Linked DNA regions of Homo sapiens: region 2 is linked to region 1. Evidence: fine-mapped expression QTL. A gene starts in region 1. The other region holds a variant in brackets. All regions are shown on one strand. Distances are between the middles of the regions.

Region 1 (5,312 bases):
GGCACCACGTGTTCCCACAGCAGTGGGACTGTGACCACCCCGGGTCACCCAGCCCCTGCCCTTCATTCACCTCAACTCCCAGCCACACCTCAGGCCTGAAGTAGAACCACGTTTTGCCTCCCACCCCACCCAGTGGGAAATGGGAATGAAGGCTGCTTGTTGGAGGGGCCGCAGGACAAGAAGGGCGGGTCCACTACCCTCCATGCTCCATCCAGGGCCCTGCGCTTGGGCCTTCAGCCAGTGGCCTCCTCACAGCAGAACTGGACATTCTCCTGGGAGACGTCTTCATGGCTGCCGCAGGCCGAGAGGGCCCTGGGCAAGGCAGCCCCTATCCACAGTTGCCAGGTCTGGGGTGCTGGAGCCCTCAGGGTGCTTGGCTGACAAGGGGAGGAGTGTCTGCCCGCTCCTTGTCCTTGTGGAAGACCCACGAAGTGATGTGCTGGGGCAAAGCTGGAGCCAGACAGAACCAGGGGTGGTGTGCAGGGCTGCCCTGGGACCAGGTGGCTGCGTGTAGGGCCCCGGGCCACCTTGGAGGCGGGGGTGGGCATCTGTGGCCGGTTCTGCCTCTGAGTGTGGCTATGCTGGGTACGGTCCCTTCCTTGGGAGGGGACTGACGCAGCCCTACCCTCGGTGCCAGACGAATCTGACTACCAGACGGAGTACGAGGAGGAGCTGCTGGACGTCCCCAGGGATGCATACGCAGACTTCCAGAGCACCTCAGCCCAGCAGGGCTCAGACTTGGTGAGGAGCTGGGCATGGTCCCACCTGGTGCCCACAGCTGAGCCTTGGTGCCTGGCCCTGTGCCGGCCACTCCCTCCCTGTGGTCCCACCGGGTTACCAGCGCTGCAGAGCCCCTGCCCTGCCTGGTCCTCACCTGGAACATGCGGTCTGCTTGCAGGAGGACGAGTCCTCACTGCGGCATCGACACCCCAGTCTGGCTTTCCCAAAACTGTCTGAGGGCTCCTCTGACCAGGACGGGTAGAGGCCTCTGCTAAAGAGCCCGGATGCAGCGTCTTCCGTGGGACTGTCCCCAAGGCTGAGGCTCCTGCCAAGTCCTAGGGGCCTCTGTACCTGCCCTGCTGGAAGCCCTGACTTCCCCGGGGCCCCAGGCTGTGTTAGGGTTCTCTGGGCCTCTTCTTTGTACCAGCAGCCCTGCATACAGGGCCCTGTGAGCCCCCCTGCAGTCCTGTGAGGCCCCTGAAGCTCTGTGAGGCCCCTGAAGCTCTGTGAACCCCCTGCAGCCCTGTGAGGCCCCCCGAAGCCCTGTGAGGCCCCCCGAAGCCCTGTGAACCACCTGCTGCCCTGTGAGGCCCCCAAAGCCCTGTGAACTGCCTGCTGTCCTGTGAACTGCCTGCTGCCCTGTGAGGTGTGGGAGCCCTGATGCTGCCGTGTGATGTTTCAATAAAGGTGGATCTCACTGTTGGACGTGTCTCCCGGGCCGAGGTCCCTGTGGCAAAGAAACACTACTGGTTCTCCCTGATGCGGGTGGTCCCTGAGGCTGGGCAGTCCCCAGTCCTCCTCAAAGGACCCCACTGCTGGGGCCTGAGAGCCCTAGGGCGGCAAATGCAGGCCAGGCAGGTAGGGCGTCCAGAGTCTGCATAGAGCTGTGGCCCCCCAGGACCAGGACGGGCCCCTCTGTCTCTCTCTGGCCTCGTGCAAACTGGGTGCCCCCTAAACTGGCTTCCCCTTCGGTTTCCAGTTCCCAAACTGCACAGGGAGCCCTTTTGTGTAAGGGGAGGGAGAACCGGCCTCCCTGTGATCCTGCAGGTCTGAGCAGCAGATCGTGAGGGCCGAGGGCCCAGGACTTTGCGACCAGGGGGCCGCTGGCCTCAGTTTCCCCGCTCTGGAGGCCTGGACGAGAGGGCGCGGAGCCAGGCCGCCCGGCCCCGCCCCCAACTCAACCCGGGCCCGGACGTCACGGTGGGCGGGGCCACATGTCCTCTCCGAGCTCTCCGGGGCCCTGACGTCACGGTAGGTGGGGCCGACCGCCCCTCTGGGCCCGCCCGGGCCCTGACGTCACGATGGGCGGGGCCGGCCCTCGGTTCGGGCAGCGCTCTCCCGGGAGCGGCGGCACGCGCGGAGCGCCGGGTGCGGCCATGCGGGGACCGGGCCCGACCCCGAGCCCGACCCCGAGCCCAAGCCCGAGCCGGAGCCCGAGCGAGACCCCGAGCCCGAGCCCGAGCGCGACCCCCGGTGCGGCGCGGCTACCCCGGCGGAGGCGGCGGGCGCGGGGCGCGCTCTGAGGCCCGGGGGATGCGCCGCCGCCTCGACCATGGGCGCCGCCGCCTCCAGGAGGAGGGCGCTGAGGAGCGAGGCCATGTCCTCGGTGGCGGCCAAAGTGCGGTGAGTGCGGCGGGGCCGCCTTCCCGCACCCCGCCCTGGACCTCCGACCCCGCCCGAGTCCGCCCCTGCCCCGCGGTGCTCCCCGGGCTCCCGGGCCCCGGCCTCTGCCACTGAGGCGCCCTCCCCGCGCCCCGCGCCTCCCTCTTCCTGGTCCCCTGCCCTGCTCTTCCCTCCCCTCCCCTCGCGAGCGCGTGGTGGGCGAGCGCACCCCCCAGGTCGGGAGTGGCCTCGGTTCCCCCGGGGAACAGCAGCCGACCGGCCTCGCGACCCCTCTCCACGGTCCGACGGGCAGGGGCCGGGCCTGCAGGCCTGGCCAGGGCGCACCAGGACCAAGGGTGTGTGGGCTCCCGGAGGGGGACGACCCCGACCCTCCTTCCAGACGCCGAGGGCCTGGCTGGGGACCGGACCCCCGGCTCTTGCGCGGCCCGGTGTTTGGGAGGGTCGTGCCGTGGCCTCTGACCGTGCCCTCTGTCCACCCTCAGAGCAGCCCGAGCGTTTGGAGAGTACCTGTCCCAGAGTCACCCTGAGAACCGCAACGGCGCAGGTAGGGGCACGCGAGGCCGTGCCAGGGCCGCCCAGACCCCCCAGCCCAAGGGATGCTGATCCCTGCCTCCGGGGGTGGAGCGTGAGGGGCATTGGTTGCGCGTGGGCCCGGCGCCCTGCCGGCCTGGCTTCCTTACATCCCCTGCCCTCCCTGCCCGAGCCCCAGGAGCAGTTCCCAGCCGCTCGTCACCATGGCACCCACCCCGCCTGGGCCGTTGGCATGGCAACAGGCCTCCTGGCTCCCCCAGGGCTGGCACCACTGCCTCTGGGGGCCAGCTGGTGGGGGGAGGGGGAAGTTGGCACCAGGCAAACGGTGCGATCGCAGGCTGGGGGATGGCCTGCGTGTTCCTACCCGGCAGGACCGCACACAGGTAGCACAGCGTCACCCAGCCCCCACGCACATGCTAGAGCTTCAGGCCCAGATAGGAGTGAGGGGCTCAGAAACACGCCAGTGACTAGGGTTTGGGCAGCCCTAGTCCCCCACAGAGGCCAGGTGCCCACTGGGTGTTCTCTGCCTTCGGCCTGCTATGAAACCGGCAGCGGGGGGCCCACACGCGGCAGGCAGGCTCACTCAGTGTCTCTCCTAGATCACCTGCTGGCTGATGCCTACTCTGGCCACGACGGGTCCCCCGAGATGCAGCCGGCCCCCCAGAACAAGCGCCGCCTGTCCCTCGTCTCCAACGGCTGCTACGAGGGCAGCCTCTCAGAGGAGCCCAGCATTAGGAAGCCCGCAGGCGAGGGCCCTCAGCCTCGAGTGTACACCATCTCTGGGGAGCCTGCCCTGCTGCCCAGCCCTGAGGCGGAGGCCATTGAGCTGGCGGTGGTGAAGGGGCGGCGGCAGCGGCACCCTCACCATCACAGCCAGCCCCTGCGCGCCAGCCCTGGTGGCAGCCGGGAGGACGTCAGCAGGCCCTGCCAGAGCTGGGCGGGCAGCCGCCAGGGCTCCAAGGAGTGCCCCGGATGTGCCCAGCTGGCTCCTGGCCCCACCCCTCGGGCCTTTGGGCTGGACCAGCCACCTCTGCCTGAGACCTCCGGTCGCCGCAAGAAGCTGGAGAGGATGTACAGCGTTGACCGTGTGTCTGGTGAGGGGTTTGTGTCAGGGCATAGACAGGTTTGGGGGTGCATGCCGCTGCCAGGGTCTGACAGCAGCAGCCACTGTGAGGCTTGGAACAGAGAACAGGTGCTCAGGTCACAGCATGCCAGCGGACTCAAGATTAAAACCGGCAGGCTTCTGCTGCGGCCTCCACACCCTATGAGCTGTGAGCTCCCTCAGCTCCTCAGCAAAATCTGCCAGGCCTCACAGTCCGCTTTCGCCCTGCTAGCACCAGGTCAATCAAGGAGTGCTTCCTGGAGGAGGGGGCCTGGGAGGATCTTAAGGGATATGTAGGGAGGAAGCACCGCTTAATCAGGAGACTGGGCTGCCCTCCGAGAGTCCTGGGGAGCTGTTGGGGCCCAGCCAGGCAGTGGGCATCTTTCCCCAGGGTTGTTGAGTTGTGTGGTAGCTTGTCCACCAGGCAGAAAGTCACTCCACTGTCCCCACACTTGGGCATCAGGGAAAGGCTGTGGGGGCCCTCGGAAGGGGACAGCCCTCAGCAAGGTGGTCTCTAGCCTCGGTGAGGGCCTCCAGCTAGAGCATGGGGGCTGCAGAGAAGGCCTCAGAGCCTCTTCTGCCCAAGGGAAACAGACGCATTGTTTTCCTGGGCCTCCTGGAGACAGACTGTGCTTTCAAAGGAATGTTTCTCAAACTTTGGGTGGCCAAAGGGAAAGTTAAGCCAAAAAAATCAAAGCGTCAAGTTACCAAGAGCGTGGTCTTGGTGAGTGAGCAGCAGACATTCGAGCACTGCCCTCTGTGCCCGTGTGGGGATGCCACCCTCCCCCCACCCGCCCTGGCTGCCAGCTTCTGCTGACCCCTGGACCCAGAAGCATCTGCTTCCCAACAGGGAGGGAGAGGCTTCAGGAACCCCTACTTCACCCAGCCACCGCTCCTTTTTGTCTCTCTTAGACGACATCCCTATTCGTACCTGGTTCCCCAAGGAAAATCTTTTCAGCTTCCAGACAGCAACCACAACTATGCAAGCGTGAGTCTTGTGCCCACGACTTGGGGTCAGGGTTGGGTGGTCTCTTTCTGCTGCTCAGGAAACAGCACTTTTTCCCAGTCTCTGGGCCTACCAGGGGGGCTGCTTCTGAACAGACCCACGTGCCTATGCTGTGCCAGGCCTGCCAGGGAGGCCAGGGCTGACTGCTCTTCCCCTCCCATGGCTGGTGCCCAGCCCCCCCCCCCACACACACACAGTCAGGGGACCTGGCCCAGGGCTGCAGCTGATGAGCTCTCAGTGGGGTGTGGGGTGTGGCAGGTTCTCCTGCTCCTATCCACTCTCCTCAGCCTGTGTCTGCCCTCCCTCAAACCCCAAATAGAAGCCTACTTC
Region 2 (5,401 bases), 64 kb after region 1:
ACACTGCACTCGGCCTCCTTGAACTGTTTGAACATGTTTTCTGTTCATTCTGTGAACGCAGTTGAAATCGTTGTGTTAAAGTCTTTGCTAACACCAATAACTTTGAGGCCTTCCTCGAAGTTGCTTTCTGTTCTCTGTTTTTTGTGTTTTTCCACTTGTTTATGGGTCATATTTCCTTGTTTCTTTTTAGGTCTTGTGATTTTTATTACGTGCTGAGTTTCGTGAATTATCCATTGTGGAAACTCTGGATTTAGGTATCATCCTCTGAAGAGCATTGTTTTTCGCTCCGGTGGGCTGTTCAGCTTCTGGCTGAGTCCCTTGAACTTGGGGTTGTGTCTTGATGTTTTGTCAGGGGCTCTTCGGAGAGCCTAGGGCCTTTCTCAAGCCTCCTAAGCTGGGTGGGACTCAACCTTCTCCAGCTTTCACGGGCTTGGTCTGGATCTGTCCTCCGGCTTTCGTGGGCTTGGTCTGGATCTGGCGAGAGGCTCTGGAGCAGGCCTTCCTCTCAGCATGGTCTTCGGCTGTGGCCGTCTGGTCCTGGTTGTGTGTTGATGGGGTCCTTCCTCTTGGCTGGCCTGGACTGCAGTGTGTCAGGCGCTGTGTGGCCTCTGGTGTCTCCACTGTATTCTCAGCCCTGGGGCCGCGGGTCCTGGGAGGCTCGGGGGTCCTCCTGCCCACACACTCACTGCCCCAGCAGCCCCTCCTGCAGGTGTGTGTCCCCCAGTGGCCCCCTCGGCATGGTGGGACACTGTGCCCAGCCCAGGCTCCAGCGTGGGGAGCAGCTGTCCTGGGGCTGCCTTGGGCACTGACTGCTGTCGGGAAACGTGGCCTCACACTGCCTGTTGCCCAGAAACTGGTTTCCTAAGATATATCATCCAGTTTTACGTCGTTTGCAGTGGGAGAGCCACAGTCCCTCCCCGACGGTGGAGCAGGAGTCTGGAGCAGCCTGCGTGAGAAAGGAAAAGGCATCCTAACCTCCATGTGACGCGGCTGGGAACGGCCTCTGTCCGTCCTGAGTCCACAGACGATGTCCACGTAACTTTTTTCAGGAGGTTGTGTTGTTGTGTGTTTAGGGGTGCGTGTTGGCCGACAGGTGAGACAGATTCTTACCCTGCCTGGGCGGAGCTGTCAGTAATGTGTAAAACTGAAGGCCTCTAAGTGACTGTGCCGCGTGTGGCTGAGAAACACACACAGGTCCGTCTCCCCGGGAATGGCCACCGTGAGGGCTGCCTGGGGGAGGGCGGCACAGCTCTCTCCTGCACGCCTGTGTTAGGATTCGGAGTTCACATGCTGAGCTTTGTGTAACTGCTGTGTGTGATTCAAACTAAAGCTATGCACTCAGAGAAAGCCTTTTTATGCAGCCTTGCGTAAGCAGACTGAAGGAGAAGGGTGACCCTCGTAAGTGTAGATAAGGGTTTTGCATCAAAAACACTCCCAGGGGCCAGGCGCGGTGGCTCACGCCTGTAGTCCCAGCACTTTGGGAGGCTGAGGCGGGTGGATCACCTGAGGTCAGGAGTTCGATACCAGCCTGACCAACATGGGGAAACCCCATCTCCACTAAAAATACAAAAATTAGCCAGGCGTGATGGCGCATGCCTGTCATCCCAGCTACTCGGGAGGCTGAGGCAGGAGAATCGCTTGAACCCGGAAGGCGGAGGTTGCAGTGAGCTGAGATGGCCCCACTGCACTCCAGCCTGGGCATTGCAGAGAGACTCTGTCTCCAAAAAAAAAAAAAAGAAAGAAAGAAAGAAAAGAAAAAAAAACACTCTGAGGGAGACTGAGGTCTGCCTGGGATGAGAGCTGTCAGCGGCCGCCTGGAGTCTTACGGAGCTGCGTACTGGGTCAGCCGTGAGGGCGTCACTCCGAGGTCCCTGGTCCTGCAGGCGCCCTTGCCCTCTGGAGGAGAGCACCTCTCTCCCATGTGGCTCCCTCAGGGCAGGACACACAGCCTGAGGGGGACATGGCAAGGGGGGTCACGCTGTCCTCAAGAACAGGCCCCTCTGCACTCCCGCGAGGGTCTGTCTACTGTGCCCCCCCCCAGGGCCCCTCCCACCCCCTGCCCTCCCTGCTGAAAGCTGGGACGGTTTGGCAGGGAACTGGAATGCAGGGTCCAAACTTGGCAGCCGTCACCCCAGCTGGGAGAGGAGTGTGGAGCTGCCCGCTATGCTCAGCGACTGGGGGTCCCACTTGGGCCCCCCCAGGCACCAGCTCCCTCCACCACCTCCAGGGGCTGTGGGCGTGGGCTCTGCATGGCTGCCTGTTGCAGTGGGCTCTGCATTCACCTGATTGTCTGTTTCTGCAGATCCTCGTTCCTAGCTGCCTGCCAGCGTCCTCGGCCCGGCCCTGAGGATGGACCCAGGAGATCCCGCTGGTGACCCTGCCGCTGGCGAGCGCCACCGCATGGGTGAGTCTGAGCCTGATGGTGCCGAGTCTCCCTGGGGCTGTGGGGGGAGGTGCGTGGG[T/G]GTGCATGGGGGGTGGTGGCGCCCACTGTGTACTCAGTGACGAGGGCCAGGCTGCTGGCCCCTAGCTGCGGGCCTCTCTACAGTGTCCACGGCTTGGGACCTTGTGAGTCCGGAGGCCCCACTGTGGCCTTGTTGTCCTCGGGGGTCAGGACAGGCCGCCTCCTTGGGCCCCAGCGTGGGTGGCCTGGCGCCGGGCCTGTGACAGGATCCGGGGGAGGTGGCGGGGACAGTGCAGCTGCTCAGGGCTGGCCGCAGAGGTGGGAGCTCTGGTCCCCTCTGTCCCTCGGGGAGCCAGGCGGAGGGCCCGGAACACCCTTGGGGGCTTAGCGCCGCCACTGGGGGCTCAGGGAACCCACAGCCTCTTGGGTCTCGGGCGGTTCCAGGGTGGCCTCCAGGGTCCCTAGTTTTTTAAACTGAGGCATTTTTCATCCCTTCGAGTTAAGAAGAACATCTGCCCTCCCAGCAGCTTTTTCAGGTTAAAAAAGAGAAATGAGAGGCACCTTCCCTGTGGGCAAAGCCGGGGAGGCCGCATCCCCGCTCGCTCGGCTGCCCTGCCAGATTCAGTGCTGAGGATAAACAGCCCGAGGGGAGGTGCAGCCTCTCTCCCTCCTGTTCCTACAGATCGAGACCCTGCAAGCTGAAGACTGGGCCAGGGTTAGGGAAGCGGAGGCTGGAAGGCCGGGATTAGGGAAGCGGAGGCTGGGAGGCCGGGGTTAGGGAAGCGGAGGCTGGGAGGCCGGGGTTAGGGAAGCGGAGGCTGGGAGGCCGGGGTTAGGGAAGCGGAGGCTGGGAGGCCGGGCTTAGGGAAGCGGAGGCTGGGAGGCCGGGGTTAGGGAAGCGGAGGCTGGGAGGCCGGGGTTAGGGAAGCGGAGGCTGGGAGGCCGGGGTTAGGGAAGCGGAGGCTGGGAGGCCGGGGTTAGGGAAGCGGAGGCTGGGAGGCCGGGGTTAGGGAAGCGGAGGCTGGGAGGCCGGGGTTAGGGAAGCGGAGGCTGGGAGGCCGGGGTTAGGGAAGCGGAGGCTGGGAGGCCGGGGTTAGGGAAGCGGAGGCTGGGAGGCTGGGGTTAGGGAAGCAGAGGCTGGGAGGCCAGGGTTAGGGAAATGGAGGCTGGGAGGCTGGGGTTAGGGAAGCGGCGGCTGGGAAGGAGTGGAGCTGCCTAGTGCCAGAGGGGTCAGCCCGAGCCTCAGCTGCTCTCTGTGCCGGGGACGGGCTGGGGCGGGAAGCCTCCTGGCAGGGGCTCGGCCCCAGTGGGAGCTGTCCGGGGCCATGGCTTTGTGGGCAGAGGGTGAGAAGGGGGTGCCGGGGCCCCTTCACATCCTTCACCCTGCAGTCCTTGTAAACAGCAGTGAGAGCTGTAAGGCCCTGGCCCAGCCGCCTCGCCCTGGGCTGCAGGCCCTCAGTTTGTTGTGGGTTTACTGCCTTTTCACTCACCGCCCCCTGGCCTTTGCCCAGTTCCACCCTACACATGCCCTGCCTGGCAGCCCCTCCATGGGGCAGGGCCATGGCCCTCCCCTCTGTGAAAGCCCTGCTCCCACATGGCAGCAGCTGAGGCTCTCTGCCTCAGTTTCCCTATCCCACGCAGTTGCCTCCTCGGGCCTTGGACCCCTCCAGGGGCTTCCTCTCTGCCTTCCTCTTCTGTGTCCCAGTGGGTGCTGAGGGCTGTGGGGGCACCTCCGGGCATGTCGCCTTCCCTGATGTAGCCAGGTCAGCGTGTGCTCGGGGAGGGGCCACCTCTGAGCTGGGCGGGGCTTGGTGTGGATGTGGCCCCCTCAGCAGGCACAACCCTGGCTGTCCTGTGGGGCCCTGACCACACACCTGCCCCTCTGGGGATGGGCCCAGACCCCCTCACCCTTCCGTTCATCCACCGCCTCCTCTGAGGCCATCTGCGGGCCCCGGGCCTGCACCTGTGTGGGATGAGGCCCTGTTACCTCCCCTGGAGACCGCCGTCAGGGCCGGGGAGCGCATGGGACCCTGGGTTCGCCTCAGCACAGAGCTGACTCTCCCTGCACAGGCACCCACAGGCTTCTACAGCCTCTTCTCCACCTAAGCAGAGTGGGATGTTTTCAAAGTGCAACACCCCAGCTAGCAGGGCCCCTGGAACAGCCTCGGCGCCCCCTGGAACACTAATGGCCCTCCCTGGAACAGACACGGCACCCCCACCGAGAACAGCCTCGGTGCCCCCTGGAACAGCCTCAGCACCCCCTGGAACACTAATGGCCCTCCCTGGAACAGACACGGCACCCCCACCGAGAACAGCCTCGGTGCCCCCTGGAACAGCCTCAGCACCCCCTGGAACACTAATGGCCCTCCCTGGAACAGATACGGCCCCCCGCCAGAACAGACATGGTGCCCGCTGGAACACTAATGGTCCTCCCTGGAACAGCCTCGGTGCCCCCTGGAACACTAATGGCCCTCCCTGGAACAGACACGGCGCCCCCCCACAGAACAGCCTCGATGCCCCCTGGAACAGCCTCGGTGCCCCCTGGAACAGCCTCGGTGCCCCCTGGAACAGCCTGGTGCTCCTGGAACAGACACAGCCCCCCCAGAACAGACACAGCACCCCCTGGAACAGCCTGGCGCTTCCTGGAATGGCCACATCCCCCCATCCTTTCTGTGCTGCTTTAGGCATCTGCCCTTACATGGTTCGTGTCCAGCTCTGTCAACAAGGCCAGCTCCACAAGAGGCCCCAGCTCAGCCCTCCCCAGTGGGCTCCCCTACTCAGGCTCTGGGTCAGCTTCTTCCCAGGAGGTGTCCTGGCCCCTGTGCTGGCCCCGCCTCGCTGCCTGGACACCTGTCCGTGCCACCCTGGTCACTGAGCAGGACATCCGCGTCTGTGGCCCCTGGGACCCTGCCCCCGACAGCCAGGCCTGGGTTTGTCCTTTTAGGTAGAGTGCCTGGTCCAGGTCATTGGAGGAGAGTCCACATGGCCACCTCTGGCGTG

What was found. PIP is the estimated chance that this variant, and not a neighbour inherited with it, causes the effect. A credible set is the group of variants that fine-mapping cannot tell apart.
Region 2: its variant is the best candidate, but not a certain one, in a credible set for the expression of NSMF in whole blood (TOPMed, PIP 0.76).

What each region holds. Positions count from the first base shown.
Region 1 is chr9:137,456,063-137,461,374 of GRCh38, reverse strand. NSMF (NMDA receptor synaptonuclear signaling and neuronal migration factor) reads left to right here and starts at 2,041. Exons shown (of 16, transcript NM_001130969.3): 1 at 2,041-2,343; 2 at 2,826-2,887; 3 at 3,474-3,968; 4 at 4,889-4,964. The coding sequence starts at 2,273. It overlaps PNPLA7 (patatin like domain 7, lysophospholipase), which reads left to right. Exons shown (of 35, transcript NM_001098537.3): 34 at 638-741; 35 at 899-1,423. The coding sequence ends at 982. RefSeq lists enhancers at 1-336, 3,160-3,857 and silencers at 1,811-2,160, 2,251-2,520.
Region 2 is chr9:137,392,306-137,397,706 of GRCh38, reverse strand. EXD3 (exonuclease 3'-5' domain containing 3) reads left to right here. Exons shown (of 22, transcript NM_017820.5): 2 at 2,303-2,404. The coding sequence starts at 2,350. Among named protein-coding and RNA genes, the nearest start is that of EXD3, 28 kb to the left of the region's middle. The variant T/G (reference allele first, on the strand shown) is at 2,463.